Homo sapiens: one gene and its partner. The main gene of each other region encodes a partner of the protein of the gene in region 2 in a complex. Links are inferred from orthologs where the notes say so. Each region holds a gene or a part of one and is shown on either strand. Other genes may lie near its edges.

Region 1 (16,190 bases), on a different chromosome or scaffold from region 2:
TCAGTCCCCTCTTGACGGACATGTAGGGTGTTTCTGGCTTTGGCTGCAACAATAATGGCACATGAGACGTTTCACACTGATGGATAGGACCCTGCAGGGAGGATTCCTGGAAGAGGAGGTCCCATGAGAAGGTCCATGCTGCTGTGTTCAGAAAGCAATCCTGGGTCTCCCCCTGAGAAAACCCCCCACAGAGGGACCGAGATAGATGATGTGGGAGAACAAGGTACTGGGTGACTTTTTTTTTTTTTTTTTTTGAGTAGGAGTCTCACTCTGTCATCCAGGCTGGAGTGCAGTGATGTAATCTTAGTTTACTGCAAACTCCGCCTCCCGAGTCCAAGCAATTCTCCTGCCTCAGCCTCCCGAGTAGCTGGGATTACAGGTGCCCGCCACCACGCCCAGCTAATTTTTGTATTTTTAATAGAGACAGGGTTTCACCATGTTGGCCAGGATGGTCTCGAACTCCGACCTTGTGATCCACCCGCCTCGGCCTCCCAAAGTGCTAGGATTACAGGCGTGAGCCACCGCGCCCAGCCATAATTTTTGTATTTTTAGTAGAGACAGGGTTTCACCATGTTGGGCAGGCTGGTCTAGAACTCCTGACCTCCAGTGATGTGGCTCTCTTGGCCTCCCAAAGTGCTGAGATGACAGGCGTGAGCCACAGCACCTGGCCTAAAACTAGATTTCTCTTTTTTTTTTTTTTTTTGAGACAGAGTCTCGCTCTGTCGCCCAGGCTGGAGTGCAGTGGCACGAGCTCGGCTCACAGCAAGCTCTGCCTCCCAGGCTAAAACTAGATTTCTAAATAAGCTTTGTGATTAAATACTAATATTTATACTTTTCAGCATATACTTACAAGAATGGGACTGGGCGCGGTGGCTCATACCTGTACTTCCAGCACTTTGAGAGGCCGAGGCGGGCAGATCACGAGGTCAAGAGTTCGAGACCATCCTGGTCAAGATCGTAAAACCCCATCTCTACTAAAAATACAAAAACTAGCTGGGCGTGGTGGTGCGCACCTGTAGACCCAGCTGCTCAGGAGGCTGAGGCAGGATAATCGCCTGAACCCGGGAGGCGGAGGTTGCAGTGAGCCGAGATTGTGCCAATGCACTCTAGCCTGGGCGACAGAACGAGACTCCGTCTCAAAAAAATAATGGAAAACAGGGATTTCCATAGATATTTGCACACCTATGTCAGTAGTACCTTGATTCCCAACAGCCACAAGGTAGCAACAGTCCCAGTGGCTATGGACAGATGACTGGGTGAACACAGCATGGCCTATACACACGCTGGAATAGGAGGCAGCCATGAAAAGGAGCGAGGCCGGGCATGGTGGCTCACACTTGTAATCCCAGCACTTTGGGAGACCGAGGCAGGTGGATCACGAGGTCAGGAGATTGAGACCATCCTGGCTAACACGGTGAAACCCCATCTCTACCAAAAATACAAAAAATTAGCCAGGCGTGGTGGCGGGCGCCTGTAGTCCCACCTACTGGGGAGGCTGAGGCAGGAGAATGGTGTGAACCCGGGAGGCGGAGCTTGCAGTGAACCGATATCGCGCCACCACACTCCAGCCTGGGAGACAGAGCGAGACTCCGTCTCAAAAAAAAATATATAATATAATATAAAAAAAGAAAAAAGAAAAAAAGAAAAGGAGCGAGGCTCTGACTCAGGCCACAACGCGCGGATGCACTTTGAGGACGTTACACTCAGCGGGAGGCGCCAGACACAAAAGGACACGTCTTGTGTGATCCACTCCTAGGAGGTCCCTCGAGTCCTCAGATTCACAGAGACACAAAGTAGGATGGAGGCCGCCAGGAGCTGGGGAGGGGAATGGGGAGTGAGCGTTTCATGGGGCCAAGTTTCAGTTTGCAAAGATCAGAAAGTTCTGGAGGTGATGGTCGCACAACCGTGTGAATGAGTTTAATACGGCTGAACTGTGCACTTAAAATGGTTAAGAGGCCGGGCGCGGTGGCTCACGCCTGTAATCCCAGCACTTTGGGAGGCCGAGGCGGGTGGATCACGAGGTCAGGAGATCGAGACCATCCTGGCTAACACGGTGAAACCCCGTCTCTACTAAAAATACAAAAAATTAGCCGGGCGTGGTGGTGGGCGCCTGTAGTCCCAGCTACTCGGGAGGCTGAGGCAGGAGAATGGCGTGAACCGGTAAGGCGGAGTTTGCAGTGAGCGGAGCTTGCGCCACTGCACTCCAGCCTGGGCGACAGAGCGAGACTGTCTCAAAAAAATAAATAAATAAATAAAATAAAAGGGTTAAGATGGTCAACTTTATATTATGCGTATTTTACCACAACCAAATAAATCAATGTTCATAAAACCACGGAGTTAGACGAGCTGTTTGGTTAGCGCCAGCTTCGCAGGCAGAGGCCTCAGGGGTCCGCTGGGGACCCACACTCAGAGGAATCTAGGCATGATATAATGCTCTGTGGTTGCTGTCTCAAAATTCCTAAAAATTGGCTGGGTGCGGTGGCTCACTCCTGTAATCCCATCACTTTGGGAGGCCCAGGCGGGCGGATCAGCTGAGGTCAGGAGTTCGAGACCAGCCTGACCAACATGGTGAAACCTTGTCTCTACTGAAAAAACAAAAATTAGCTGGGCGTGGTGGCGCATGCCTGTAGACCCAGCTACTTGGGAACCTGAGGCAGGAGAATTGCTTGAACTCAGGAGGCGGAGGTTGCAGTAAGCTGAGATCATGTCACTACACTCCAGCCTGGGCGAGAGAGCAAGACTCCGTCTCTTTAAAAAAAAAAAAAAAAAAAAAAAAAAAAAAAAGGCCGGGCTCGGTGGCTCACGCTTGTAATCCCAGCACTTTGGGAGGCCGAGGCGGGCGGATCACCTGAAGTCGGGAGTTCAAGACCAGCCTGACCAACATGGAGAAACCCCGTCTCTACTAAAAACACAAAATCAGCCGGGCGTGGAGGCACATGCCTGTAATCGCAGCTACTTGGGAGGCTGAGGCAGGAGAATCGCTTGAACCCAGGAGGCAGAGGTTGTCGTGACTCGAGATAGCACCATTGTATTCCGACTGGGCAACAAGAGCAAAAAAACTGTCTTAGAAAAAAAAAAATTCTAAACATTTTTAAACAAGGGGCCCTGTATTGTCATTCTGAGCTTGGCCTCAAAGATTCTGTAGCCAGGCTTCTTTTGGGGAAAGGACCGGGAGGCCTCCTTCCAGGGTCAGGGGCGTTAAGCGCTGCGGAGGGATACCCCTCCCAGAGGGGAGAGAGTGGAACCCGCTCAGGAAGTGGGTTCCTGACATGAGAAGGAAGGAAGTTGGCGGGGGCATCTTAAAATAGCATCACCCAACCACGCGGTCAGAGGTGCGGGGAGGGAGCAGGGCCAGGGCCGGGGACCCTCCCAGCGACCTTCCCTGCAGGCACCCAGCCCCGTCCCCTCGACACACCAGACCCAGCACCCTCTGCTCCCACCAGCCCACCAGGAATTGGGTTATTTAAGTTATTTATTTATTTCCTTATTTTCTTTTTCTTTTGAGATAGAGTCTCACTTTGTCACCCAGGCTGGAGTGCAGTGGCGTGATCTCGGCTCACTGCAACCTCCACCGCCTGGGATCACGCGACTCTTCTGCCACAGCCTTCTGAGTAGCTGGGATTACAGGCGCCCGCCACCAAGCCTGGCTAATTTTTGTATTTTTAGTAGATACAGGGTTTCACCATATTGGCCAGTCTGGTCTCAACTCCTGACCTCAAGTGATCCACCCGCCTTGGCCTCCCAAAGTGCTGGGATTACAGGCGTGAGCCACCGCGCCTGGTCTATTTCTTTTTTTTTTTTTTTGAGATGAAGTCTTGCTCCCTCGCCCAGGCTGGGGTGCAGAGGCACAATCTCGGCTCACTGCAACCTCCGCCTCCCAGGTTCAAGCGATTCTTCTGCCTCAGCCTCCCAAGTAGCTGGGATTACAGGTGCCCGCCAACCACACCTGGCTAATTTTTGTATTTTTAGTAGAGACAGGATTTCACCATGGTGGCCAGGCTGATCTCAAACTCCTGACCTCAGGTTATCCGCCCACCTCGGCCTCCCAAAGTGCTGGGATTACAGGTGTGAGCCACCGCGCCTGGCTGTAATTGCCTCTTAAAGAGAAACAAGTCAGATTGGATTTGGGCGCACCCTCAGGACGTCATTTGAACCTAATAATCTCTTTAAAAAGTCCTGTCTCGGCGGGGGCCAAGCACAGTGGCTCAAGCTTGTAATCCAAATACTTTGAGAGGCCAAGGCAGGAGGATCACTGGTGCCCAGGAGTTTGAGACTAGCGTGGGCAACACAGCAAGACCCCATCTCTACAAAAAAAAAAAAAAATATTTGGTTAGCCAGGTGTCGGGGCACATGCCTGTGGTCTGAGCTACTCCGGAGCCCAATGTGGGAGGATCCCCTGAGCCCAGGAGTTTGAGGCTGTGGTGAGCCGTGATCAGCTCCCACTGCACTCCAGCCTGGGCCACAGAGAGAGACTTCCTATCTCCACGCCAAGTGCCTTAGGTCACGCCTATAATCCCAGCAGTTTGGCAGGCAGAGTGGGAGGATCACTTGAGCCTTACAAGTTCAAGACCAACCCGGGGCTGGGCGCGGTGGCACACGCCTGTAATCCCAGCACTTTGGGAGGCCGAGGTGGGCGAATCACGAGGTTAGGAGATCAAAACCATCCTGGCTAATACGGTGAAACCCCGTCTCTACTAAAAATACAAAAAATTAGCCGGGCGTGGTGGTGGGCGCCTGTAGTCCCAGGTACTCGGGAGGCTGAGGCAGGAGAATGGCGTGAACCCGGGAGGTGGAGCTTGCAGTGAGCTGAGATCACGCCTCTGCACTCCAGCCTGGACCACAGAGCGAGACTCTGTCTCAAAAAAATAAAAAAAAAATAGCCGGGGGTGGTGTCGGGAAGCTGAGGCAGGAGAATGGCGTGAACGCAGGAGGCGGAGCTTGCAGTGAGCCAAGATCATGCCACTGCACTCCTAGGCGACAGAGCGAGACTCCATCTCAAAAAAAAAAAAAAAAAAAAAAAAAAAAAAAAAGACCAGCCTGGGCAACTAAGAGAGACCTCTGTCTCTGCAAAAAAAAAAAAAAAATTTTTTTTTTGAGACGGAGTCTGGCACTGTCACCCAGGCTGGAATGCATTGGCGTGATCTCAGGGTTCACGCCATTCTCCTGCCTCAGCCCCCCGGATAGCTGGATTACAGGCGCCCACCACCACACCCGGCTAATTTTTTGTATATTTAGTAGAGACGGGGTTTCACCGTGTTAGCCAGGGTGGTCTCGATCTCCTGACCTCGTGATCCACCTGCCTCGGCCTCCCAAAGTGCTGGGATTACAGGCGTGAGCCACCGCACCCGGGTGACACTCCATTTTTGACCCCAGTGTTAGCACAGAGCTTTTAAACTTCCGCACTGCTGATGAGGGAGTGTGATTGTTCTCTGTTACCAGCACTGTCTCCCGCCCACCGGAGCCGAGTGTGGTGGGTGTGGACCTTCTGGGAAAGGGTGTAAACACGTGCTTAGATCCGGCCGGAAGCCCCGTGACCGGGGTGCAGCTGCCTTTGGTCAGTAGGTGGCAACCGTGTCCGCTTGATTTTGGGAGGGTCCGAGAGGCTGGTGCAGGGCTCCCAGGAGAGGCGGGGGCGATCCCACTTGCCTTGCCAGGATAACAGCAACAAGGGCTGCCCACGTGCATGCTGGGCAATAGGGATACCGCAGAGAATGAAAGTCCAGCCCTAGCAGGGCAGCAAGACCTCGACTCTACAAAAATTTCAACCACAACAAAAATTAGCTGGGCGTGACGGAACACATCTGTGGTCCCAGCTACATGGGAGGCTGAGGTGGGAGGATCGCTTGAGCCCGGGTGGCAAAGGCCACAGTGAGCTATGACTGCACAACTGCACTCCAGCCTGGGTGACAGAGGCAGATCTTGTCTCAAAAAAAAAAAAAAAAACAAAAAACAAAACAAAAACACCAAGGCCAGGCACGGTGGCTCATGCCTGTAATCCTAGCACTTTAGGTGGCTGAGGCGGGAGGATCACCTGAGATCAGGAGTTCCAGACCAGCCTGGCCATCACAGCGAACTCCCATCTCTACTAAAAATCCAAAAATTAGCCAGGTGTGGTGGCAGGCACCTGTAATTGCAACTACTCAGGAGGCTGAGGCACAAGAATCGCTTGAACCCGGGAGGCGAAGGTTGCAGTGAACCGAGATGTCACTGCACTCCAGCCTGGGGGACAGAGTGAGACTCCATCTCAAAAACAAAACAAAAAACACCAAAACGTCCTGTCCTGGTGGAGGTGAAATAAATGAGACATCCTTGGCCGGGCGCTGTGGCTCACGCCTGTAATTCCAACAATTTGGGAGGCCAGGCGGGTGGATCATGAGGTGAGACCGAGACCATCCTGGCTAACATGGTGAAACCCCGTCTATACTAAAAATACAAAAGTTAGCTAGGCGTGGTGGCAGGCATCTGTAATCCCAGCTACTTGGGAGGCTGAGGCATGAGAATCGCTTGAACCCGGGAAGCACAGGTAGCAGTGAGCTGAGATCGTGCCACTGCACTCCAGCCTGGGAGACAGAGCGAGACTCCGTCTCGAAAAAATATATGTATAGCCAGGCGTGGTGGCTCACGCCTGTAATTCCAGCACTTTGGGAGGCCGAGGCGGGCGGATCGCTAGGTCAGGAGATCAAGACCATCCTGGCTAATGTGGTGAAACCCCATCTCTACTAAAACTATAAAACAATTAGCCGGGCGTGGTGGCGGGCACCTGCAGTCCCAGCTACTCAGGAGGCTGAGGCAGGAGAATCGCTTGAACCTGGGAGGCGGAGGTTGCACTGAGCCAAGATTATGCCACTGCACTCCAGCCTGGGTGACAGAGCGAGAGTCCGTCTCAAAACAAACAAACAAACAAATCAGAAAGTTAATGGGATGCTGACGCAAAGAAACAAGCTGAACAAGGTGGTGACAGGGAAGTTGATACTGATTTTGGCCTCAGCCATGTGGAAACAGACAGAGGGTCTTGCGGGGAACTCCTCTCCTTTTTTGGACGCATTCCTGTTTTGTTTTGTTTTGTTTTGTTTTTTTAACTTTCTTAATTTTTTTCAGTTTTCGTCACACTTTGTCTAATACTATTTCTTTTTTGTTTTTGAGACAGAGTTTCGCTCTTGTTGCCCAGGCTGGAGTACAGTGGCACAATCTCAGCTCACTGCATCCTCTGCCTCCCAGGTTCAAGTGATTCTCCTGCCTCAGCCTCCCGAGTAGCTGGGACTACAGGTGCCCGCCACCACGCCCGGCTAATTTTGTATTTTTAGTAGAGACAGGGTTTTTCCATGTTGGCCAGGCTGGTCTCAAACTGATCTCATGATCCGCCTGCCTCGGCCTCCCAAAGTGCTGGGATTACAGACATGAGCCACCACGCCCTGCCTAAAATATTTGTTTTCATAATTAAAAACATTGTTTCTTAGCCAGGCCCTGTGGCTCATGCCTATAATCTTAGGACTTTGATTTTTTGTTTTTGTTTTTGTTTTTGAGACGGAGTTTCCCTCTTGTTGCCCAGGCTGGAGTGCAATGGTGCAATCTTGGCTCACTGCAACCTCTGCCTCCTGGGTTCAAGCGATTCTCCTGCCTCAGCCTCCTGAGTAGCTGGGACTACAGGCATGCGCCACCACACCTGGCTAATTTTTCGTATTTCTAGTAGAGACGGGGTTTCACCATGTTAGTCATGTTGGTCTCGAACTCTTGACCTCAGGTGATCCACCCGCCTCAGCCTTCCGAAGTGTTGGCATTACAGGCGTGAGCCACTGTGCTGGCTTTTTTTTTTTTTTTTTCTGCGACGGAGTCTCGCTCTGTCACCCAGGCTGGAGTGCAGTGGCGCCATCTCCGCTCAGTGCAAGCTCCGCCTCCCGGGTTCACGCCATTCTCCTGCCTCAGCCTCCCGAGTAGCTGGAACTACAGGCGCCCGCCACCACGCCCGGCTAATCTTTTTATTTTTTTTAGTAGAGATGGGGTTTCAGCGTGTTAGCCAGGATGGTCTCAATCTCCTGACCTCATGATCCACCCACCTCGGCCTCTGTACTTTTTTCCTATTGGCTGGGGTCGGGTCACACAATCTAAACTAACTTTGGTTGGCTAAACATTTGATTTTTTTTAGATAGGGTGGGTATGTAAAAGAAAGGGGAGGCCGGGCGCGGTGGCTCGCGCCTGTAATCCCAGCACTTTGGGAGACCGAGGAGGGCGGATCACGAGGTCAGGAGATCGAGACCATCCTGGCTAACACAGAGAAACCCCGTCTCTACTAAAAATACAAAAAATTAGCCGGGCGTGGTGGCGGGCGCCTGTAGTCCCAGCTACTCGGGAGGCTGAGGCAGGAGAATGGCGTGAATCCGGGAGGCGGAGCTTGCAGTGAGCGGAAATCGTGCCACTGCACTCCAGCCTGGGCAACAGAGCGAGACTCTGTCTCAAAAAAAAAAAAGAAAGAAAAAGAAAGTGGAGAGAATGGGGAAGGGGGTGTCTGTGATGAGCTAGAAAGTTAGTCTTTTTTTAAAATAAGGAAAGGAATGTAAGCTGATGCTGATAACGCTTGGTATTGAGGCGTGTCTAGGCATTTAACAAAGGCAAAAAGGAAAAAGAAAAAGAAGGGAAAGGAGGGGTACTATGAATTAAAGAATAAATGATTGATCAGATTATTTGAAGAGAAACCCCATTATATCCCACAACTAGAACCCCTGGCCTGAAGTGGTCCACCCGCCTCGGCCTCCCAAAGTGCTGGGATTACAGGCGTGAGCCACCACTCCCAGTCTTATTTTTATTTTATTTTGTTTTGTTTTGTTTTATTTATTTTTTTAGAGTCTCGCTCTGTCACACAGGCTGGAGTGCAGTGGCGTGATCTCAGCTCACCGCAACCTCCACCTCCCGGGTTCAAGCTATTCTCCTGCCTCAGCCTCCTGAGTAGCTGGGATTACAGGCGTGCGCCACCACATCCGGCTAATTCTTGTATATTTAGTAGAGACGGGGTTTCACCATGTTGGTCAGGCTGGTCTCAGACTCCTGACCTTGTGATCCACCCACCTCGGCCTCCCAAAGCGCTGGGATTACAGCTGTGAGCCACCATGCCTGGCCTATTTTTTTTTTCCTTTTTTTTTTTTAGACACAGTCTCCATCTGTCACCCAGGCTGGTGTGCAGTGGCGCAATCTCAGCTCACTGCAAGCTCCACCTCCTGGGTTCACGCCATTCTTCTGCCTCAGCCTCTCGAGTAGCTGGGACTTCAGGCGCCCGCCACCACGCCTGGCTTTTTTATTTTTAGTAGAGACGGGGTTTCACCATGTTAGCCAGGATGGTCTCGATCTCCTGACCTCGTGATCCGCCCACCTTGGCCTCCCAAAGTGCTGGGATTACAGGCGTGAGCCACCGTGCCCCGCCCAGGCCTATTTTTTTAAAGACAGGATCTCCCTCTGTTGCCCAGGCTGGAGTGCAGTAATGCTGATCAAAGCCCACTGCAGTCTTGACCTCTTGGGTTCAAGTGATCCTGCCACCTCAGCCTCCCAAGTAGCTGGGACCACAGGCACACACCACACCTGGGTAATTTAAAATTTTTGTGTAGAGACAAGGTCTCACTATGTTGCCCAGGCTGGTCTCAAACTCCTGGGCTCAAGCGATCCTTCCACCTTGGACTCTCAAAGTGCTGGGATTACAGGCGTGAGCCCCCGAGCTTGGTCCTGGTCATTTCTTGACTGCCTGTCACTTGGGGCCACCCAGCCCGCCAGTGTCTGACTTAGGCTTCTGGCTGATTCTCTGCGGCCACTAAGCTCACAATTGGGGAACCGACTCCATGATTTTGCAACATTTCGATGCCGGACCCTGACGCATTACTGTGAGTCGGGAGGGTCACGTTCCGTTTGTTTTTTGAGACGGTCTGGCTGTCACCCAGGCTGGAGTGAAGTGGCATTGGTGTGATCTCAGCTCACTGCAACCTCTGCCTCCTGGGCTCAAGCCATCCTTCTGCCGCAGCCTCCCGGCATGTAGCTGAGACTACAGGCGCCACCATTCCCAGCTATGTTGTTTTTTTTTTTTTAAAGAAAGAGACAAGGTCTCGCTGTGTTGCCCAGGGCAATTTCAAAATTCCTAGACTCAAGCAATCCCTCCGCCTCGGCCTCCCAAAGTCCTGGGATTACACTGGGATTACAGGTGTGAGCCAGCACACCGGCTGTGGGCCACATTACTTTTGAAAAGTTCTGGATAAAGGCCGGGCGCGGTGGCTCATGCCTGTAATCCCAGCACTTTGGGAGGCCGAGGCGGGCGGATCACGAGGTCAACAGATCGAGACCATCCTGGCGAACATGGTGAAACCCCCGTCTCTACTAAAAATACAAAAAAATTTGCGGGGCGTGGTGGTGGGCGCCTGTAGTCCCAGCTACTCGGGAGGCTGAGGCAGGAGAATGGCGTGAATCCGGGAGGTGGAGCTTGCAGGGAGGTGGAGCTTGCAGTGAGCTGAGATCGCGCCACTGCACTCCAGCCTGGGCGACAGAGTGAGACTCCTTCTCAAAAAAAAAAAAAAAAAAAAAAGAAAGAAAAAGAAAAGTTCTGGATAAAGAACAATGTCAATTAAAAAAGGGGTCCCATCAGTAGAGGCTGAAATCATGACTGAAACTAGCTTAAAGCCCAAAGCAAAACAAAAACCCGAAAGAAGGCCAGGCATGGTGGCTCGCACTATCCCAGCATTTTGGGAGGCTGAGGCAGGTAGATCACCAGAGGTCAGGAGTTTGAGACCAGCCTGGCCAACATGGTGTACTAAAAAATACAAAAATTAGCCAGCTGGAGCGCAGTGGCGCAATCATAGCTCACTTCAGCCTTGACCTTCTGGACTCCAGTGATCCTCCCACCTCGGCCTCCTGAGTAGCTGTCCCAGCTGTCCCACTTACTCAGTGCCCCTCCGGACCCAGCAATTCTTTTTTTTTTTTTTTTTGCAGAGATGGCAGCATGTCTCAAACTCCTGGCCTCAGGCAAACCTCATGTGTCAGCCTCCCAAAGTGCTGGAATTACAGGCACGAGCCACCATGCCTGGCCTAGATTCATTTTTTTAGATGCAGAGAATCTGGGCTTTGGATTTAATGACTTACCAAATAAAGGCTGTCTTTTTTTTTTTTAAAACAAATCAGCAAAACAGGGGCTCTTGGCTAGTTTGCATGAGGCATCCAGGGATGGAGAGATGTGTATTTAAGCTAAAAAAAGAAAAAGTGAAACTCACAGCAGTCTGAGTTTTTATTCAGAAAAGGAAAAAAGAAAGCAACTGAGAGCGAAATAGTTTCCTGGAATGCTGTTTTTTTTTTTTTTTTTTTTTTTTTTTTTTTTTGAGATGGAGTCTCACTCTGTCGCCCAGGCAACAGAGTGCAATGGTGCGATCTCAGCTCATCGCAACCTTCGTCTCCCGGGTTCAAGTGATTCTCCTGCCTCAGCCTTCCCAGCAGCTGGGATTAAAGGCCCCTGCCACCATGCCTGGCTAATTTTTGTATTTTTAGTGGAGATGGGGTTTCGCCATGTTGGCCAGGCTGGTCTCGAACCCCTGACCTCAGGTGATCCACCCACCTTGGCCTCTCAAAGTGCTGGGAGTACAGGCATGAGCCACCGCATCCGACCTTGAAATGCACTTTCTTTGAAACACGTCCTCCCCTTTCTCACCATAAACTCCCTCACACTCTGCAGGTTTACCTAACTGTATGCATCTAATTATGTGATTACCTAAAAGTTCCAGGAACAGGCTGGGCACGGTGGCTCACGCCTGTAATCTCAGCACTTTGGGAGGCCGAGGCGGGCAGATCACCTGAAGTCAGGAGTTTGAGACCAGCCTGACCAACATGGAGAAACCCCATCTCTATTAAAAATACAAAATTAGCCAGGTGTGGTGGCGTGTGCCTGTAATCCCAGCTACTCGGGAGGCTGAGGCAGGAGAATCACTTGAATCTGGGAGGTGGAGGTTGCGGTGAGCTGAGATCGTGCTGCTGCACTCCAGCCTCGGTGACAAGAGCGAGACTGTCTCGAAAAAAAAGAAAAAAGAAAGAACGTTTTAGAGCTAATCTGGAGACAGGCCAAGCACGGAGACCCACCTGCAAAATCCCAGAGATTTCCTCAAGGTGGTCTGCAACCCGGCCCTTATTAGGATGAGGCCAGCCTGCGCTTTTAAGCCACCAAAATTCATGAACACACAGAGCTTATAATCAGCACCTCCCCTGCACACCCACCATTCCCAGTTCCCCTTTTTTAGCCCCTCACCCCAGCCTCAAGTTTGAAGGGGTTTCTGGAGGCCTAAACCAGCTGCCTCCCTGCTGCGAACTCTGAAAGGAAGTCACCTTCCTTTCACTGCACTTTTTCCTCCTTACTGGTTTGTCAAGACTCTGGCATCGGAGCCTGAGCTGGTTACAGCCAGGCACTGTCAAGCTGTTGGGGGAGGGGATGACAAATTCCCTCCCGTTGAGAACCACTTGGTTAAACCTGTCCAACTGGAAGGAGTAACAAATTGCTCATAAAATATGCATGTTTTGGTGAAACCCCTTCTCTACTAAAAGTACAAAAACTAGCCAGAAATCGCTTGAACCCAGGAGGTGGAGGTTGCAGTGAGCCTAGCACTGCACTCCAGCCTGGGTGACAGACTGAGGCTACGTCTCAAAAAAAAAAAAAAAAATGTGCTTGTTTGGCCCAGGAGAGGCAAGAGGTCTTCTTCACCTACGTTACTGGTGAGAAAACTCAAACCTGAGGGCGGCCCACGCCGGAGTGCAGTAACAGGCAGAACTGGAACCTGGCCCCATCCCGGACTCAGGGGACGGGTGTCATATACCCCCTCTGCCTCATCCTTCCCACTCTGCTAACCTTCCAAAGATCCCCCGGGTTCCGAGTTTTCCCTGGCCGCTTGATGGGATTCGAACCTGCAAACTCAGCGCTCGCCCAGCGCAGCGGCCCCGCCTCTCCTCCCCTCCCGCCGCCCGGAGGTCATGTGAGCGCAGTGCCGGAGCGGGGCGGGGCGAGGCGGCGGCGCGCAGTGCCTACTAGCAATTGTAGTCCTTGCCCCACCTTGGCCTGGCGAAGATCCCGCCCCTGGAACTACGCTCCCGTCGTGCTCCGCGGCTCCAGGCGGAGACGAGGCGGGGTGAGGTGGGTTGGGCCGGGCCGGTTGCTAAGACTTGGCGAAGCGCTGCGCTCGCGCCCGGATCCCTCAGGTAAGCGCGCGGCCCCGAGGTCTCGGGTTCTCCAGGCTCAGACTTCCCCAGAGGGGGAGTAGGGGCTGACATGGGGGGTCTCGGCGGTGAGGGGCGCCGGCCGTTTGTGGGGAGAAAACGGGGGGCCCAGGCCAGCCTCGCGCGCGTCTCGGGCGGGCCGGTGGGCGACGCGGGGAGGCGGCGCGAATGCGCGTGCGCGCGCGCGCGCGGCGCTGGCCTGGGGGAAGCCTCAGGACCGCGCTCCCCCGGGCCTAGCGCCTTTCTGCGCGTGTGCGCCCTTATGGTCGGTGCGGGAGACCCCGTATCCTCCAGCTGCTTCCGGTGGCCCTTCCTCAGGTCATGTCCCGCAGTCCCCTGCCTCTGAACCGCGCTCTCGCGAGTTTCCGTAGCCTTCGCGTCCTTCCTCCCCAGCTCTGATTCGCCTTTATGTGGAGATTCCCCTAGGCCTTGGTACATCCCCAGAATTGACCATCGTTCCTCATCGTTACCTAGAGTATGAGTTTTTCAGGTTTTTGTATCACAGGCCCCCAGTTATCTCCCACACACTACCCCGAGGACCGAGGTTCCCCGCTGTCTTGCAGAGAAGGCCTCCTTGTAGGGTGGCCAGAAACAGAGGATCGACTCCGTGGAAACAAGGACGGCTGGGTGCAGTTCCTCACCCTATAACCCCAGCACTTTGGGAGGCCAAGGCGAGTGGATCACCTGAGGTCCGGAGTTCGAGACCAGCCTGTCTAACATGGTGAAACTCCATCTCTGCCAAAAATACAAAAATTAGCTGGGCGTGGTGTCACGCGCCTGTAAAACCAGCTACTGGGGAGGCCAAGGCAGGAGAATCGCTTGGACTTGGGAGGTGGAGGTTGCAGTGAGCCAAGATGGCACCATTGTACTCCAGGCTGAGCAAGCTAGCAAGACTCACTCTCCAAAAAAAAGAAAAAAAGATTTTTTTTTAATAAGCCAGGCATGGTGACACATGTCTGTGGTCCCAGCTACTTGGGAGGCTGAGGCAGGAGGATTGCTTGAGCCCCGGAGGTTGAGGCTGCAGTGAACTGTGATGGCACTACTGCATTCCAGCCTGGGCAACAGAGCGAGACCCTGTCTCTAAATAAATAAATAAAATACATACGTGTAGCGCCGGCCGTGGTGGCTCACGCCTGTAATCCTAGCACTTTGGGAGGCCAAGGCGGGTGGATCACGAGATCAGGAGATCAAGACCATCCTGGCTAACACGGTGAAACCCTGTCTCTACTAAAAATAAAAAAAAGCCAGGCATGGTGGTGGACGCCTGTGGTCCCGGCTACTCCCAAAGGAGGCTGAGGCAGGAAAATGGTGTGAACTCAGGAGGCAGAGCTTGCAGTGAGCCAGGATCGTGCCACTGCACTCCAGCCTGGGCGACAGAGTGAGACTCCGTCTCAAAAAAAAAAAAAAATTGTGTGTGTGTGTGTGTGTGTGTAAAGAAACAAGCCCCAGGCTGGGCGCAGTGGCTCACGCCTGTAATCCCAGCACTTTGGGGGGCCTAGGCAGGTATATCACAAGGTCAGGAGTTCGAGAGCAGCCTGACCAATATGGTGAAATCCCACCTCTACTAAAAATATAAAAAATTAGCCAGGCATAGTGGTGCACATCTGTTGTCCCAGCTGCTTGGGAGGCTAAGGCAGGAGAATTGCTTGAACCAGGGAGGCAGAGGTTGCAGTGAGCCAGGATCGCGCCACTGCCCTCCAGCCTGGGGGACAGAGTGAGACTGTCCCAAAAAAAAAAAAGCCCCCACGCAGACTATTGGTGTGCCCTGGAACTGAGCATTAGCTGTTCCCTCTCCGAGTTCTCTCCCCTACTTCCCCAGCCTTCCAGGCTGGGCTGTGGGTCACTGCCTCCGAGGAGCCCTCCTGGATTCTGCTGAAGATGGTCAGGCCCCTCCATCCCCCCATTTTCTCTTATGTACCTGACAGCCCTGCCTTAAAAAAAAAAAAAAGGTAGAGCAGGAATTCCCATTTCACAGGGGTGGAAGCCGAGGCTTGGAGGAGTCAGGACTGGTGCCTGAGTTCTCGCAGTCAGGAATTGACCGCGCTGGGCTGAACGCCTCTAGGGCAGGTTGGGGACTGGGTGTGTTTTCTGGGTGGACATACCCAGGTCCCGGCGCGGACCTTGGCCTCCTCATCTGTGGGCTTAGATAAAGGCCTCCCAGCCTCCTGTTCACCAGGGTTGTCACCACGCAGGGTCTGACTCACCTGCCTGGAGCTATGCCGGTTCCCAGCCCAGGCTGGCGGCCGTGTTCTGCTGGGACCTGGGACCTGGGCTGCCTGCCCTCCTGAGGGGTCCCAGTGGTCGGTCGCCTGCCTTCTGGGTGGGTGTGGTAGAGGGAGGGTCAGGTGGCCCCCTGCTGTTGGGGGGCAGTCGCTGTGGGAGTGAGTCGTCCCCCCGGGCCATAGCAGGTAGGTAGGAGGTGCTCTGGCAGTTGAGGCCGCCCTGGCCTGGGACAGTCAATCAGCCTGAACACTGTGCCTGTTCCGGGATTTTGACCTGCCCTCCAAGGGCGCGGCGGGCCCAGCCTGCAGTGTCCCGGCAGCTGCCTCCTCTCTGGGTCGTTTGTTTTTCATCAGACAGAGGTTGTACTCTTGGAGGGACAAGCGAGGCTGTGTTTGTCTTTTACCCTGGAGACAGTGGAGTGTTTGTGGCCTAGCAGGGCCGTGCGGGCCTCTCGGTCCTGGTCGCGCGTGGTGTGCGTTTTGGGAGGGCCCAGCGAGTCGGCTGCTATGGGCCCCACCTGGCACGGGGCCTCGGGCAGCGGCAGCACCTGGCGCTGCCTCCGCGCTTCCTGCTCCCGGCTCCCACTGCATCTCCGGTTCTGTGCTTTGTTGAACGCGTGAGCTTCGGGCAGCGCTGGGGCCGCTTCAGCGTGACCTCCAAGGCCACTGGCCTGGAGTTCCACTGGCTGCTGGTCCCCCATCTGTGGGGCGCCCCGGCGGCTGAGGCGTGGACCAGGCAGTGCATGTCGA
Region 2 (15,491 bases):
CCCTGCTTCCTGCTGTGTTAAGTGCTGGAGCTCCCCAGAGGTCCCCCTCCACTCCACTCGCACACTCAGAGCCCTCTCCTCTTACGTGGGATGAGAGCAGTGGTTCTCAACCATTGCTGCTCAGGAGAACCAGTTGGAACTCTCTGGAAACACAGCACTGTTGGCCCCCTGCCTTCTGATTCAGATGGTCTGGGGCAGGGACTGAGCAGAGTCAGGCACAGAAGCCTCCAGGTGATTCTAACGGGCAGTCCGGGATGAGAACTGCTGAGTTACAGGCCTCGAAGGAAACTGCACCGCCCTAACACACCAATATAATATATTATTTACATTTTCAAGTATCCATTATAGCAACAAATTTGTGGTGTTAATAAAAAGCAAACATTCATAATAATTTTTTTTTTTGAGACAGTCTCACTCTGTCGCCCAGGCTGGAGTGCAGTGGCGCAATCTCGGCTCACTCACTGCGAGCTCTGCCTCCCGGGTTCAGGCCATTCTCCTGCCTCGGCCTCCCAAGTAGCTGGGATCACAGGCGCCCGCCACCATGCCCGGCTAATTTTTTGTATTTTTAGTAGAGACGGGGTTTCACCATGTTAGCCAGGATGGTCTCGATCTCCTGACCTCATGATCTGCCCGCCTTGGCCTCCCAAAGTGCTGGGATTACAGGCATGAGCCACTGCACCCAGCCATAAAACAAAAATTTTAAAAAACAGAGCAGGTGTTATAATTAATCACCATCTTCTTTGAAAAGAATAGTTCTGTAGGCCTCTAGAAATTTTAATGCTGCTTATAATACAGCATGAAAAGAATCTGCAATTCTGCAGTAAGAAACAGTATCCCACCTCCCAATCACCTGCTGCCTCCTAAGCCCAGACGAATTAAAAAAAAAGAATACCCAGCATTCAGAGCCTGGGCCACCACTGTTCTCCTTAGAATCTAAAAGCACCTTTAAAAAAACCATAATTTGGCATTCAGCCTGGAGATATGGCTGCAAGCCACAGGCATTGATTTGCAGCTGAGCCGATGTGGCTAGGTATATACACTGCAAATGAACTTGTTTTGGTTCTGCTGCATCGACTACAAAGATGTGTGAGAAAGGACTGTGTTTGTGCCCTCATGTCACTGACATGTTGGAGAGAAATATTCCACCCATGTATGACATCAAAAGACTCATCTTTGTTCTGCCCAGAAACTGAAAAATTATTTAGATCATTCTCATAAAGGAAATATGGAGTCAGCAATTCATTTGCAAAGAGTTATGTAAGCAAAATTTGAGCTACTAACAGAAGTGATTGGAAAAATCAAATCACTTTCTAAATGTCTTTAATGATCAAACCAATTGTATCCTTTACTCTCCATCATTGCATTACAATTTCTTTTCTGATGTAATGTTAAACAGCATTTATTCTCAAATGCACAGAAGTTGATAGGAAAGCTAATGTTGAGCTAGAAAACTCAAGAACGTTTTAAAAACTCGTTCTCAGTGAGACTCAGCCAAATTTAGTCCTTCATAGGTCCTTAAAGTATTCTAGGAACCCCTGAGGTTTTTGAAGTGAACTGCCCAGCCATATCCAGCATCTGTTAAAGCTTTTTCTTTTTAAAGCACAATACTTTTACATTAACCTTACATCTTGGAGAGAAAAACAATCAAACCAATTAATGAAAGTAGGGGTATAGTCACAGGCCAAACTCTGAAATACAAATTCCTTTTGTTCATAGTCTGACCCATAAAAACTTTGGGAGAAGTGGCAAGATTAAACGGAAAGGAGAATTTCTAGGAGACTAAAGACATGGATTCTTAAGTCTGGGGGAAATTTCAACATTAAAAAGACACACAAAAAAAGACATGAAAATACAGTGATTGCTAGATACTAAAATAAGGATGTGGCAATCAAGCAAAATGATTAAATTTGTACAAAAATATTGTGTGTGCTGTAAATAGTCTCTAGCGTCACTGACACAGGCCAAGCATCACCAAACTTGGTAGAGCATAGAGCTGGTAACGTTCATTGAATAAAAACTCCAACAGCGAGAGTGTCTTCAGGCATACCTAACGGTGTTGGTGAAGAGTGTTCGGAGTCAGCTGCGAAGGGTGGACTCTCCTTCAGGAGGGAGTCTGTTAATGAAGAGAGGTAGGCACTCATCTAGAAACTCTTCCCTGTCATCTTATACTGAGGCATAAATGAACTCCACCAGAGGCCCTGAGATCAAAGATGTCTGATTCTATCATCGTTTCTTCGTATACTGGCCACACACTAGTTATTCACAAGCCCATAAAGAGATGAAAATAATTAGCAAGAAAGAAAAAGCATAAGCAGTTTGTATTACCTGAAATGGTCTCCCAGTGTTTGGTAGGTCAGCAGAGGCAATATTTAGAACAGAGCCACAACCACCAAATCGTTCATTCTGACAGCCATATACAACCAGCGGGATTTATAAGACAGAATTAAGGTCCTGCATAGAATGTACATTTCAAGTATGTATCGTGACAAAATCAGAGTAGGTTTATACCAGCCATCCTGGAGAGGAACGCTCATGCTACTCTTCAAACCAGTGAAGCTTAGGATTCGTCTTATAAACCATACAATCCAGCTACACAGAAGAAAAGGGGTTAAAGTATTGAGAAATTGACATTTAACAACTGCAAACAGAATGAAAACTGAGTATGTGTTTGCTTAAAGTTCACAGTTCAGGGCTCTCTCTGCTCTTTCCTAAATCACTTTTTCAGAATCATTAGGGAGTCAGAACCAGAAAGGATGCAGAAATTTAATCCAGGGATTTTCACCTTTTAGAAATAAAAGATTCTTCCCTGTTCTTGCCCCAAATAAAATATAACCTGTGCCCTAATACAAAATAGACTAAAGCTTAGCCACTCTGTAAGGCAGGATGAGGAGAGAATTCTAAGTTGCCTATAACAACCCTTTTATAGAGACTGTACATTTTATCATACCCAAAAACCTCTGTATTATTTTTAAAGTGTTAAAATTATCCATCCGTACATAGTAAAATAAGTACATAAAAAATAAGGAACTAAAAAGCTGAGTTTTTCAATTTTCAAATAATTTTTTAAAAAGATCTTTAGAAGTCCCTACAGAGTCTCTGCACTATTTAAGTTGCTTAATCCATGCAAGACAATCCAAAGAGCTGTAACTTTACTCATTTTCCATTTACAATCAGAATATCATAAAGGATTTCTTACTTCTTATTTACTTTTTACTGATAATGTTTGATACATTAGTATTCATGGCAAACAAACCAACCAGATAAACAGAGAAAAAAAAATTTAAACCACTCATAATCCATTATCCAAAGGCAAAACTTAGCTGCATATTCTTTAGGACTTTTCCTTTGCAAACTGTTTTATAATCCACTTCAACTTAATTTATGATTTACCTTTATATAACTGTTTAAGACAGTTCTAATATTTTCTTTCTCTAGATTATTTGTTTAATCATTCCATGTTTATTGATATGAAAAGAAATAGGTCATTTTACTATTTAAAAAGCTTTTCTTTTTTTTGGCTAAGACACACTATATTTTACAAGGTGTTTCCTAAGTCTGTGTTTTCATATTTTGGAAAACAGGCTACGTGTTTGGCCACTCTCTTGTTCACACGAATGGTACGATACATTAACTCATGAAGTCAAAGGATACTCATCAGGCGGAGAGCAGCTGCACACATAATGCACGGCTCCACAGTGACATACAACACAGTGTGTTCAAATACTTCAGAGGGACTCTTGCCACTTTGACGACACCAATCGAGGACCTGATCGATGGCCACCATTTCTGCATGTCGAGTAGCCTGAAAAGAGAAAGGGGCTTGCACTGATGCTGTTTGCTTCATGTGACTACTATTTTACAAATATACAAAAACTAAGTACAAAATATGCGCCTATCCTTTCTGCCAATATTTTAATGAATACAGTTTCAAGACACCCTTAGCAGTGGACAACGTATTCCCCAATTCAAGTACCATAACCTCACTTGCGAAAGATATCTAATCAGAGATGCCACAGGAATCATGCTGTATTTTTAGTTAAGTACCTAAGTACCTTAGGGAAAACTCTTTCAATTAAAATGCCATGGAGAAGGTAAGTCTAAAAAACAAAGAAAAAAAGATAAAGTCTATGGTTTCTGAATATTTCAGGGGAAGCAAAATTTTCATAAGCTTGTGCTCTAGTTTCAAATATATTTTCAAGGCTGTCACTGACCTCACTCCAAGCAAATCTACATTAAGTTCACTGGAATGTCATCTCTTACACTTTTGGGGAATGAGGTTTTATATACTGGAAGACTCTAGAGAAGTAGAGATTTGGTATTGGTTTCAGACACTTCATGGGAAGCAGTAGAGGATAGGAGAAATCACATAGCATGTGGAAGTGACTCCATTTAAATTTGAATTTTGACAGTGACATTACCAATTATGTGGACTTACGCAAGTAACTTAACTTCTGTAAGTCTAGGATTCCCCATATGTAAAATGGTATACACTGGTATCTACACTTATAAACCTTATAAATCTGAATTACATGAAGCATGGTGCCACATAATACTACACATGTACTCTGCTAGCTCTTGTCTCCTTTTCTTTCTCCCTTACTAAAATAGCTTAAAGTGAATCATAGATTCTATATGGAATAATTATTTATAATATTCATGACAATAGTATTTATCAATAATTTACACTGAGTATTAACCATGCACAAGCCACTGGGCTAAATAAATTCTGTGTAGGATAAAAAGTCTCTGTCCTCAACAAGCATAAAATCTGGTAGGGCTCATTTACCTGTGAGATAGGGCAGGGTATGAAAAGTGCTAGCACAGTGGCCCAAGATGCCATGGAAGCTAGAGGCAGATGGGAGCAGAGCTGGCCAAGGGGCTACATGGGTGAATCACAGAACTAATTACCAGAGATGGAAGGTACTTTACAGAAGAGGTTCCCAAACCTGGCTGCACACCAAAACTAAGTGGAGAGTTTAAAAAAAAAAAAAAAAAAAAGGTTTCCCCAACTTAGGTGCTTTCAAAAAATCAGATTTAGAATTATGGAATCAAATCTCCCTACAGCTCTCAATAAACAATTGCTGAACTCAATCATCTCAGTCAACTCTCTTACTACTAAAGAAAAAGAAGCTAAGCAAAGCTGGCATGTGTTAATCACATACAGCTGGGAGAGGAGGTGGTGGTGGCGACTGGGTAGTGGTGGTGGTATCAGATCCAAAAGTAGAACTCAGGTCTTCTCATTTGGGGTCAAGAGTCTTTCTATGCTGTAGTTATAGAGTAATCTTCTTTATGACACGGAATAACAAAATAAACCCAGGTTAATTTCAGCATATAGAAGAAACCCCGGTCACTGGATGGGGTTAGATGGGTATTGTTAGGACAGTCAAAGTTCTCATCTTAAGACATCATACACAAAATGCAAATTGGAAAATTTGACCACGATTTAAAATACAGAATTCTACTCCTAAATAAGTATCTATACATTCATTAATTGCTGTATTATGTTTATTACTTATCTCATGTTTTAATATCCTCTTAATAACTGCTTTGTGATTCAACATGAATGTAATTAAAACATTTTTAAAAATTCTTCAAAACATCTTTTTCAAAAAGAATTTTTGTATGTTTTACAGTATTTTAAATTGATATTTAAAATTATGTCATTTTTCAACAAACATCAGCTAATTGTTTGCAGAGGTATGTGTACATGCTTCTGTTTTTTTCTAACTGAAAAGGTAACGGCTAATTTAAAAATGTTAATTCTATATGGGAATGACTACCCTGGCAGTTATAATACTTCTCAGTGTTATAATGGTAATTATTTTAACATTGTTTGAAATTATTGCACATGTGAGTTAAAATTAAAAGACTGTATATATTTGTATATTGTTACATGATTTATATGAAAGAAAACTGTCTGGAAGAATATGGCAAAATTTTAATAGTTCTGCATAGAGAAATGAGATAGAACTGCTTCTACTTTCTGTATTTGAAATTTTAAAAAGGTATTTCAAAATGAGCATTTAAACAACAAAGAAGGCCCTGACAGTGGCTGAACTCCCCCAGCAGATGTCTGATGCTAAGAACATGATGGCTGCCTATGACCCCCAGTATGGCCTCTATCTAACAGAGGCTGCCATTTTCAGGGGCTGGATGTCCATGAGGGAGGTAGAGGAGAAAATGCTTCATGTCCAAACCAAGAACAGCAGCTACTTTGCTGACTGGATCCCCTACAATGGGAAAACAGCTTTCTGGGACATCCCATCCGCAGGACTAAAAACGTCCACCACTTTCATCAGTAACAACACGGCCATCCAGGAGCTGCTCAGAGACGTCTCAGAGCAGTTCACAGCCATGTTCAGGTGCAAGGCCTTCCTGCACTGGTACATGGGCGAGGGCAAGAATGAGATGGAATTCACTGGGGCCGAGAGCAACATGAATGACCTGGTATCAGAGTACCAACAGTATCAGGATGCCACTGTTGAGGAGGAGGGAGAGTCTGAGGAGTGGACTGAGGAAATGGGGGCGTAGAGCCTTCTGTTACTGGGTTAAGGGCGGGGGTGGTATGAATTCTTCATTTGCCCACAATGTGTTCTGTGATAGTCATGTCTGTGTGGGCACTTGCTGTTCTTGCTGTGTGTTCACCTCTATTAAAGCATTTCCATAGTAAAAAAAATAAATAAATAAATAAAAATTAAAAGTATGACTTACATATATTCATGCTTCTCACTTATTACAGGGTAAATTTAAAACTGATTCATTAAAAAGTTGTCTTTTTCAAGAATTCAAAGGACAAAGAATTTTGTGAAATACTATATTTTTATTTAAGTGTCTTTTTTCTTTCTAATTCTACACTTCGATCTACTATTTTTCATAAGCAAATTGATAAAAAAGTTTTTTTGGGGGGCTGACATATTAACTACAGATTTTCTATGCAGTGAACATGGTTATATATAAATCTGAATTGTCCAACTACTTTGTCGGAACAGTTCCTATTGATTGGAACTGCTAGGGCGAAGTATATGCAAAATCTACATTTTGAGTAAATTTCCTATAATCAATGTAAGCTTTCCCAGTGTTTGAACGTTTCCCATTCCCTAAAACTGTTCAAACATTAGATATCAGTATTTTTAATCACTGATAATCTAATGTTACAAAGAAATTGCTTTTTTCTTCTGTTAAAGTTAAGTTAGATCATCTTCATGTAGCCTTATTGGTTGTTATTTCATTTTCCTCTGTTCCTTTTATTTTCACTTCCCTTGTAATATTAGTCTCTCTGTTACTGATTTCTAAGAACTCATTTCTGATTAAGGATGTGAACATTTTGTCAAGCATTGCAAATGAAATACCATGTTTATTCCAGTTTATTTTACTGTGGTGTTTTATTTTTTTGGTTGTACAGAAGTTACGTATTAAAATATAATCCTGTTCTATTTTATGGCTAAAAATAAATAAGTAAATAAATGATTTGTGAATCTGGATTCCTATTTTACATGTGTTTTGCTAAATATCAGTTTTCTTTTCAATAGATGTGATTGATAGATGAACTAGTTCCCACAGCCCTGGTATCAACACCAGCTTATTCTCTGGCTCCCAAAATCATATGACAAGATAAAAGTCTGTGTGAATGGCATTACAGGTATAAGTGATCTTTGAGTCCACCTAGGAATTTTTGTAATCATAAAATTTGGTAGTTTACTTATACTTCCCAAGTATACTTATCATGACACACTATTGTGATACCATGTTTAAGAAGCATTGCCTTGAACCATGAACTTCCCAACCTAACCACAATAAAAGTCATACAAGCTATTAAAATGTACATGCTACATGTAGCTACAGAGGCAGCTGGTGTTGAAGACCCTATTTTGTTGAATTATCTGATAAAGGAATAGCTTCCTTTATATAATCCTCATACCTCCCTCCAAAGCTATACATTGAGGATACTTTTTTAACTTACTAGGATGAAAATATTATTTAAAGGTACTAAAAAAGGAATGTATTATGAGTTAAATTGACCTATTTTATAAAATGAAAATTTCATATATTAGATTGGCTTAAAGTAGAGACAGACTTGTTTCTTCCATGCTGACATTCTGATGAAATAAAATCCCCTCTTGGGTTTCACTCAAGCATTAGAGTAAAACTCTATGAAACAGAAAATTATTCACTAAGATTTTATGGCTTCATTAAATTGTTCTGAATTTTCCACAATAAAAAAAATCAACATGTATCACTTTCAAAATCAGGAAGAAAATGATACTGAAAAAGAGAGACGTTAAGAAAAGCTACCCACCACTGGCAGCTACGGGACTATATTCAGTCTCACCTTCACACCAACTGTGGTAAATTCTCTCCAGTCCACCCATCACTACTGTATGTTTGCAATTATACTGCTCAACTCACATACATTTTTGGTTTGGTTAACTTCATTTCTCCCCTTCCCTACAACTTCATTGTTGTAGACCATAAGACAGCCAACAGGAACTTCAGTATTTTCGAGGGCTTCTTTGGCCTGAAACACAAAGTGGAAAATGTAAGACGTAATACTCCATACTTGAAGAGAGTATAGGAGAGAAAGAGATGCAGCATGAACAAGATACACATGTACAAAGACTGAAACAAAGAAGTGCAGCCTTCCCTTTTCTGGAATATAGTTCCATTACGGTATTTAGTGCCCGTGTTCTGTGTTGTGTCCATGTTAAGGGAGACTCAAAAAAAATCCCCTTGATAGGTCCAGAGCCCCTGATGTCTTCTCATTGGAAATAGACGTGATCAAAGGAGACTGTGACTGACCACTGTTCTTGAAGTGCCAGGGTCTATGTGTCTTTTCAGAGATAGAATACATATTTGCAAAAAGGTAGGGGACTAAATAACACTTATAGATCCTTTATTACAATCCTTTCCTCACTGAAATTCCTTTGCTTCTCTAAAAATTATAGAAATTATCCTCTAGAGTCCCAATAGCTAAAGGTAACCAGACTGGATGTCACCCTGTCCCACAATTTCTACTCTATGTGAGACAATAAGAGTTTAGAAGTACTCTATGTAAAATGGCACAATCATTATGAAAAACGTTTTGGAAATTTCTTTAAAAAGTAAACACACACACAGTCTATAACAAAATTCCACTCCTAAGTATTTAAAAGAAGGGAATATGTGTCTACAAAAAAAAAAAAAAAAAGAAGAAGAAAGAAAGTTTGAAAAAGAACCAAAACCTTGAAAAAGAATGTTAATAGCCAAAACCTGAAACTGCACAGGTGGCCATCAACAAGAAAATGGATAAACAAACTGTGTCCTATTCATATAATGGAATACTAGTCGGCAATAAAAAGGAACTACTGATACTGTGACAACATGGATGAGCCTCATAGACATGCTAAGTAAAGGAAGTCACACACAAAAGCACACATACTATATGATTCCTTTTGCACAAAGTACCAGAATAGATAAAACTAAACTACAATGACAGAAACTGGAACAGTGGTTGCTTCATGGAGGAGGATGTGCAGATTGATTGGGGAGGTACACAAAAAAATTTTCTGAGGTGGTGAAAACTTTCTGGATCTTGATAAAGACATGGATTACAGAGATGTTTGCATTATTCAAAACAGATTGAAGGATACATTTACAACCTGTGCATCTCACTGTATATAAAGTATACCTCAACTGAAAAAAATCAATGAGAAAAACAAGTTTAGGAACACTTCCATGACTACCATCCCAGGAATGGCAAACCAATTATTATATTCTCAAAGTTCCCTTTATCACAGGCCATTCGTTTTTCTTCTTGTCCCATGATAGCAGCTCTGGGCCCTAGGAAAATTAACTCTACCTTCAGGCGGAGAGCTTAAGCAGGCAGGTTATGCCTCAGTATAACCTGATACTGCCTCTGAGAGTCAGAATAAGGGAAGAGTACAACCCTTGGACTAGTGTACATTCATTCCCATCTCAATGCAGTCAAAAGAATATAACTGCTGTACAGCTGTTTCCAGAAAGGCAAGGTATTCCTTACTGTGGCAGCCCTGAAGAGACTTTGGAAGACTTGATTCTCACTTAAGTGCAGGTACTTACACACATCATAGGGCATATAAAGTGCAAAGTTGAAGGCATTGTTAAAACAGTGTCTTCTGTCTCCTGCACCAGTCTCTTACTCCCAGTTCTACTTTATTTAACTAGTGACAACTTCCTATTATAAGGCATACAGGATTTCCTCAGTTATTCCCACCATGTTCAACGGACACTTATTCTTCATTTGGCCATTAGAGGAAAAAGGAGACGCCCACAGCAGGAGCAAACTGGGCCTCTCTTTTCTCCATCTGGTTGGTGGGTCAGAGATGGGGCATGGAGAGATGTGAGAAGACAGTATCTGATGCAGTAAGACTGCATTCAGGACTATTTTATGAACTATCCACAGGCCGGTTGTGTCCCAGTTCTGTGACAGTGGTTAAAGCATGTCCAGTTTATGCAAGTTCAAAAGGCTTGAAGAGTCCCGAGGTTTGGTTAATATAGACAAATGCACCATAGGCTACTATAGAGAAGAAAGCCAGGAAGAAGACGGACAGTTAAGGAGAATGGAAATGCTAACTACCAGTGTAGCTATGGCAATTATTATACTAAGAATTTTATTTAAGGTAAGTGTAGAATTACACAGAGATCAAGGTACACAGAAGAGACAAATCATTTATTCATGCAAAAAATATTTGTTGAGGATCTTGAGATGGAGAGATTATCCCAAATTCAGGTGGGTCCTGAAGGCACCCACAGAAGGCAAGAGGCGAAGTGATAACGGAAGGAGAGAGAGAGAGATTTGAAAATGCTGCACTGCTGGCTTTGAAGATGGAGGGATGGGTCATAAATGTCACTTCAGTACCTGGAAAAGGCAGGCTTCCAGAAGTTATTCGGCCCTGCCAAAACTTTGATTGGGGCTCACTAAAATTTCAGACTTCTGGCCTCCAGAACTATAAGAGAATAAACTTGTGTTGTTTTTAGCCACCATGTTTGTGATAATTTGTTACAGCAGCCATAGGAAACTAATACATGCAGCAAAGAGGAAGAAAAACATGCTAAAATAGGAAAAAACTTACAAACCACATCTCTGGCAACACTCTAGTATCTAGACTATATAAAGGACTCTTAAAACTCCACAATAAAATAATAATCCCATTAGAAAAAGACTGTTTTCATCTATTTGTGCTGCGATAAAGGAATACCTGAGGCTGGGTAGTTTATAAAGAGAAGAAGTTGATTTGGCTCACAGTTCTCCAGACTGTACAAGAAGTATGGTATCAGCATCTGCTTCCAGTGAGGGCCTCAGGAAGCTTCCACTCATGGCAGAAGGCAATGGGAGCAGGCATCACATGGTAAGAGAAGAAGAAAGAAAGGAGGGGATGGTATATTCTCATGATAATAATATAGTGAGAACTTGCCACTATAAAAATGATTTATGAGGTATCCTCCCCATGATCCAAACTTCCCACCAGGCCCTGCTACTAATACCAGGGATTCAATTTCAACATGAAATTTGGAGGCGACAAATATCCAAACTATATGAGAAGGCAAAAGACAGACATTTCACCAAAGAAGATAACACACATAGCAAATAAGTACACGAAAAGATGTTTTCACATCATTAGCCGGTAGAGAAATGTCAACTAAAACCACAATGAGGTATCACTACACACCCATCAGCATGACTAAAGTGAAACGTAAAAACAACATCAAATGCTGGCAAGGCTGTGGAGAAGTGATATTACTCATATACTGCTGGTCGGAATATAAAATGGTACAGCCACACTGGAAAATAGTTTGGCAGTTTCTTAAAAAGCTAAACATGCATTTAACTTATGACCCAACAATTCCACTCTTGGGCATTTATCCCAGAGAAATGAAAACCTATGCTCACACAATGTATGTCTGTGTGCACAAATATTCATAACAGCTTTATTTGTAATAGCCAAAAACTGGAAACAACTCAAATGCCCTTCAGTGGGTGAACTGCTAAACAAACTATGGTACACCTGTACCATGGGACACAATGCAGCAATAACAAGGAATGAACTATCGATAATCTCAACAACTTGGATGGATCTCATGGGAATCATGCTGAATGGAGAAAGCCAAGCCAAATGGTTACAGATTCATGTACATAGCATTTTTGAATTATAAAATTATAGACAGAGAACAGATTAGAAGCTGCAGCTATAAAGAGGTAGCACAAGGGAGCCATGTGGTAGTGAAACAGTTCCAGTGGTGGTTATACAAAGCTAAACATGACAAAATTGCATAGGCACGCATACACACACACACACACACACACACACACACACACGTACAAATAAAACTGATGACATCTTAATAAGCTCTGCAGTTTTCCCAATGCATTTTTCCTGGTTTTGATACTGAACTATAGCTATGCAAGATGTTACCACTGAAGGACACTAGACACTTGGGTCCTCCCAGTATATTATTATTGTAATTTCTTGTGAACTTATAATTATTTCAAAATGAAAGTTAAAAAATAAGTACAGGTAAACAAAAAGGATTTTGCAATGGGAATTAAAAAGAGATGTTTAGTGAGTTTAGAGAAATATTTGGTGTTACGGACAATCCCAGAAAAACACTAGGCCAAGAAGGAAGGGTGGTCAAGTGTGTCTAATTCAGCAAGGTGGTGGCAATTTAGGTGGAATGGTGGAGATGAAAACCAGTAGCTTGAACAGTGACTTATCTAAGAGGTTAAATTTTTAACTCCAGCTATACTTTCCCCAACAAACCTCTTAAGAGAGGTAATGTTTTGTCTGCATCTCGAGTATTCTGGTTCTGAGAGCTTGAACATAAGAGCTTACAATTTATTGAAAGCTTACTTTGATCCAGGACTAATTTAAGCATTTTATAAGTATTAATTCATTTCATTTACAAGCCTATAATGATCTTCCCCATTTTACAGATGAGGAAACTGAGGCACAGGGAGATTTTTTTTTATACATGTATATATCTCTCACTAGCGCATGTGAGAGAGCTGGGACTAGGGCATAGACAACCTGGCTCCACTTATTCATTTGTTCAACAAACATTTGTGGAGCACCTACCAAGGGCCAGATTCCAGGGCTCTCTGCCACTGTTCTGCCTCTAACTTCTACTTTAGTAACAACAGACACTTCACCGATCAGCTGCTTTATCAGGGTTTGAGTTTAGAGTGAATCAAGGGACCAAATGAGAGAGAACAGTTGGCAAGAGAGTGAGACATGGAAATTTTAAGGATAAAAAAAATGGCAAGAGGAGTTCAAGGCTGTAGTGAGCTATGATCATGCCACTACACTCCAGCCTGGGTAACACAGCAAGACCCCATCTCTAAAAAAAGTAAAAAATAGGCTGAGCACAGTGGCCCATGCCTGTAATCCCAGCACTTTAGGAGGCCAAGGCAGGTGGATCATCTTAGGTCAGGAGTTTGAGACCAGCCTGGCCAATATTGTGAAACCCCATCTCTACTAAAAATACAAAAATTAGCTGGGCATGGTGATGGGTGCCTGTAATCCTAGCTACTTGGGAGGCTGAGGCATGAGAATCGCTTGAACCCAGGAGGCGGAGGTTGCAGTGAGCCCAGATTGTGCCATTGCATTCCAGCCTGGGCGACAAAGTGAAACTCTGTCTTAAAAAAAAAAAAAGTTAAAAAAAAAAACAAAAACGGCAAGAGAATAAACAAATGGAGGCCATGTGATCAGGATTTTCTGTAAAAATATCTCCTGAAGAGCTCTACATTGGCTATGTGGGCCATCTCAAACCTGCAGAAGAGAATGCAGGGCCGAGTGGAAAGGACGTGAGTGGGATGGGAGATGAGATTCCATGTTGCCTGCAAGTTCTGTCTTGTTCACCTGGAGATAGCACCCACGCCACCATGTTACTGGGTTTGTGCCTTCCATTCCTTCCTTTGGATTTTTCTCTTTTTCCGTCTAGCAAATTTATTTCATTTCACTCCTCTCAATATTATCTTCATGTTTATTTTGAGTAACACAGTTTTTTTTCCTGAAATGCCTTCCACTGCTGTCCGAAACAGAGAGCAAATATGAGCGATCGGAATATTTTAAAAGGACAAATAACGTCATTGTTGAGGAATGGCCGAGCCTGCCATGCTGAGGATGAGTGGGTAAGCAACTGGAATGGTAGGCAGGGGAGGGGGCGGTGAGAATAACACAAAGCCCCATGGAAGTGAGTTGAGGGGAACTCCTTTACAACAATTAACATGTAGATTTGCTTCACTAACAAGTTCACAATAGATTTAATTAAGCTGGAAATCAATTTCACCCCATACCCATATCATACTTTCAAACTCTCCCAACAACTCTACTGTCAAGTCTGATCACTTCTTCACAAATGCAAAAAAGCTCAGGCAAAATGGGTCTGAAATTTGTGCAGGTAGCTTTGAATTTAACCTTTCTTGCCTTTTTTAGGGGGAAAGACCAAGATCAGATACTATTTAAAAATGGCTACAAGGTTTTTCATAAAGTAACAAATGATCAACCTTCAAAATTAAAGAATAAAATCTCTGTTCTTCCCAGCCCAAACACTGGTCTCTATTTTGTCCTTGAATATAATTTCTTTTTTTTCTCTAGTCAGGGCCTGCCCAGATACAGATAATGAAAGCACCTAGATGGAAGAGACTTCGTAGTTTATTATTTTCTCCAAAGACATTACTACTATAAACTGCTTTCTAGTGATGTCATGATAAAAGGGGGAGAGATGGAAACAGACCTTGTTTGCACACAGTTTGATGAGTCCTTAAAGAAATATTTCCTATAAAGACAAAAAATTAGGGGGAACAAACAAGTTAGCCAGAACTCTCAGGTAGAACATCATCCTGTCCAAAAGGCTAAACTATATAACTGTTTCTGCTAATTACTCTCTTCTGAGTGATTACTCTCTGAGTAATTAGCAGAAACAGTTATATAGTTTAACTTTGGGGATTTAAAAAGTGATAATGTTTTTATTCCATCAACTTTAAATTCTTCAATATGGCACTGAAGGTCTCCCAACTATCACCCACCCTCCCATTGGCCAACCGAACCAACCTAACTTTTCATTATTCATTTAGGTTATTAACCTTTTCAGAGCAGAAATCCCCTTTTAGACACTGATGAAAGTTATGGACTGTCTCACTTGAAAAAGGCACACGCACATAATATTTTATATATAGTTTCAGCGTTCATAGATCCCCCTAAACCTGAGCCTGAGGTCAGGGAGCCCTGTTCTAGATAGATAGATAGATCTCCTTCTAACCCAAAACAAAGTTCTTGATTTCTTTGGACATGACAGTATCTTTGCTTGGATCAACCTTTCCTTTCCACCAGCCCACATCCTTTTGGTCCCTTAAAATTTAGAAGGAATTCTATCATTTATCTCAACGGACGTGTTGAAGGACCTTGCCAGCTGTTATCTGACAGCACTTTATATCTGTCTCTTGTGGTCTTTGGACATGTTACTTACCAACCTTTTCA

Evidence for each region.
Region 1: the proteins of ADAT2 (region 2) and ADAT3 are in contact, whole or in part, in a crystal structure (PDB 9HMM), measured with the Mus musculus proteins. The link is inferred for Homo sapiens from one-to-one orthologs. Residues at the interface, in NP_080024.3 of Mus musculus: Val62, Asn63, Lys66, Asn67, Ala68, Thr69, His71, Met74, Ile77, Leu81, His85, Pro91, Cys107, Ile108, Met109, Ala112, Ala113, Leu116, Met117, Arg130, Phe131, Val137, Leu138, Ile140, Asp144, Leu145, Pro146, Asn147, Thr148; in NP_001094076.1 of Mus musculus: Val217, Ala218, Pro220, Leu221, His223, Ile229, Asp230, Ala233, Gln236, Gly237, Glu270, Ser272, Pro274, Val276, Val290, Met291, Met294, Ala295, His298, Ala299, Pro311, Asp312, Leu318, Phe319, Val321, Arg324, Asp326, Leu327, Asn328, Pro349.

The regions. Positions count from the first base shown.
Region 1 is NC_000019.10:1,892,240-1,908,429, forward strand, and holds the start of ADAT3 (probable inactive tRNA-specific adenosine deaminase-like protein 3), read left to right. Parts: upstream 1-13,159; 5' UTR 13,160-13,200; intron 13,201-16,190.
Region 2 is NC_000006.12:143,430,180-143,445,670, forward strand, and holds part of ADAT2 (tRNA-specific adenosine deaminase 2), read right to left. Parts: intron 14,791-15,491; coding exon of another isoform or gene 14,749-14,790; exon of another isoform or gene 11,270-14,748; coding exon of another isoform or gene 11,259-11,269; exon of another isoform or gene 11,214-11,258; intron 10,962-11,213; exon of another isoform or gene 10,874-10,961; intron 8,516-10,873; coding exon 8,411-8,515; coding exon of another isoform or gene 8,407-8,410; intron 3,803-8,406; coding exon 3,652-3,802; intron 2,433-3,651; coding exon 2,326-2,432; intron 1-2,325. UniProt on the Homo sapiens protein: Probably participates in deamination of adenosine-34 to inosine in many tRNAs.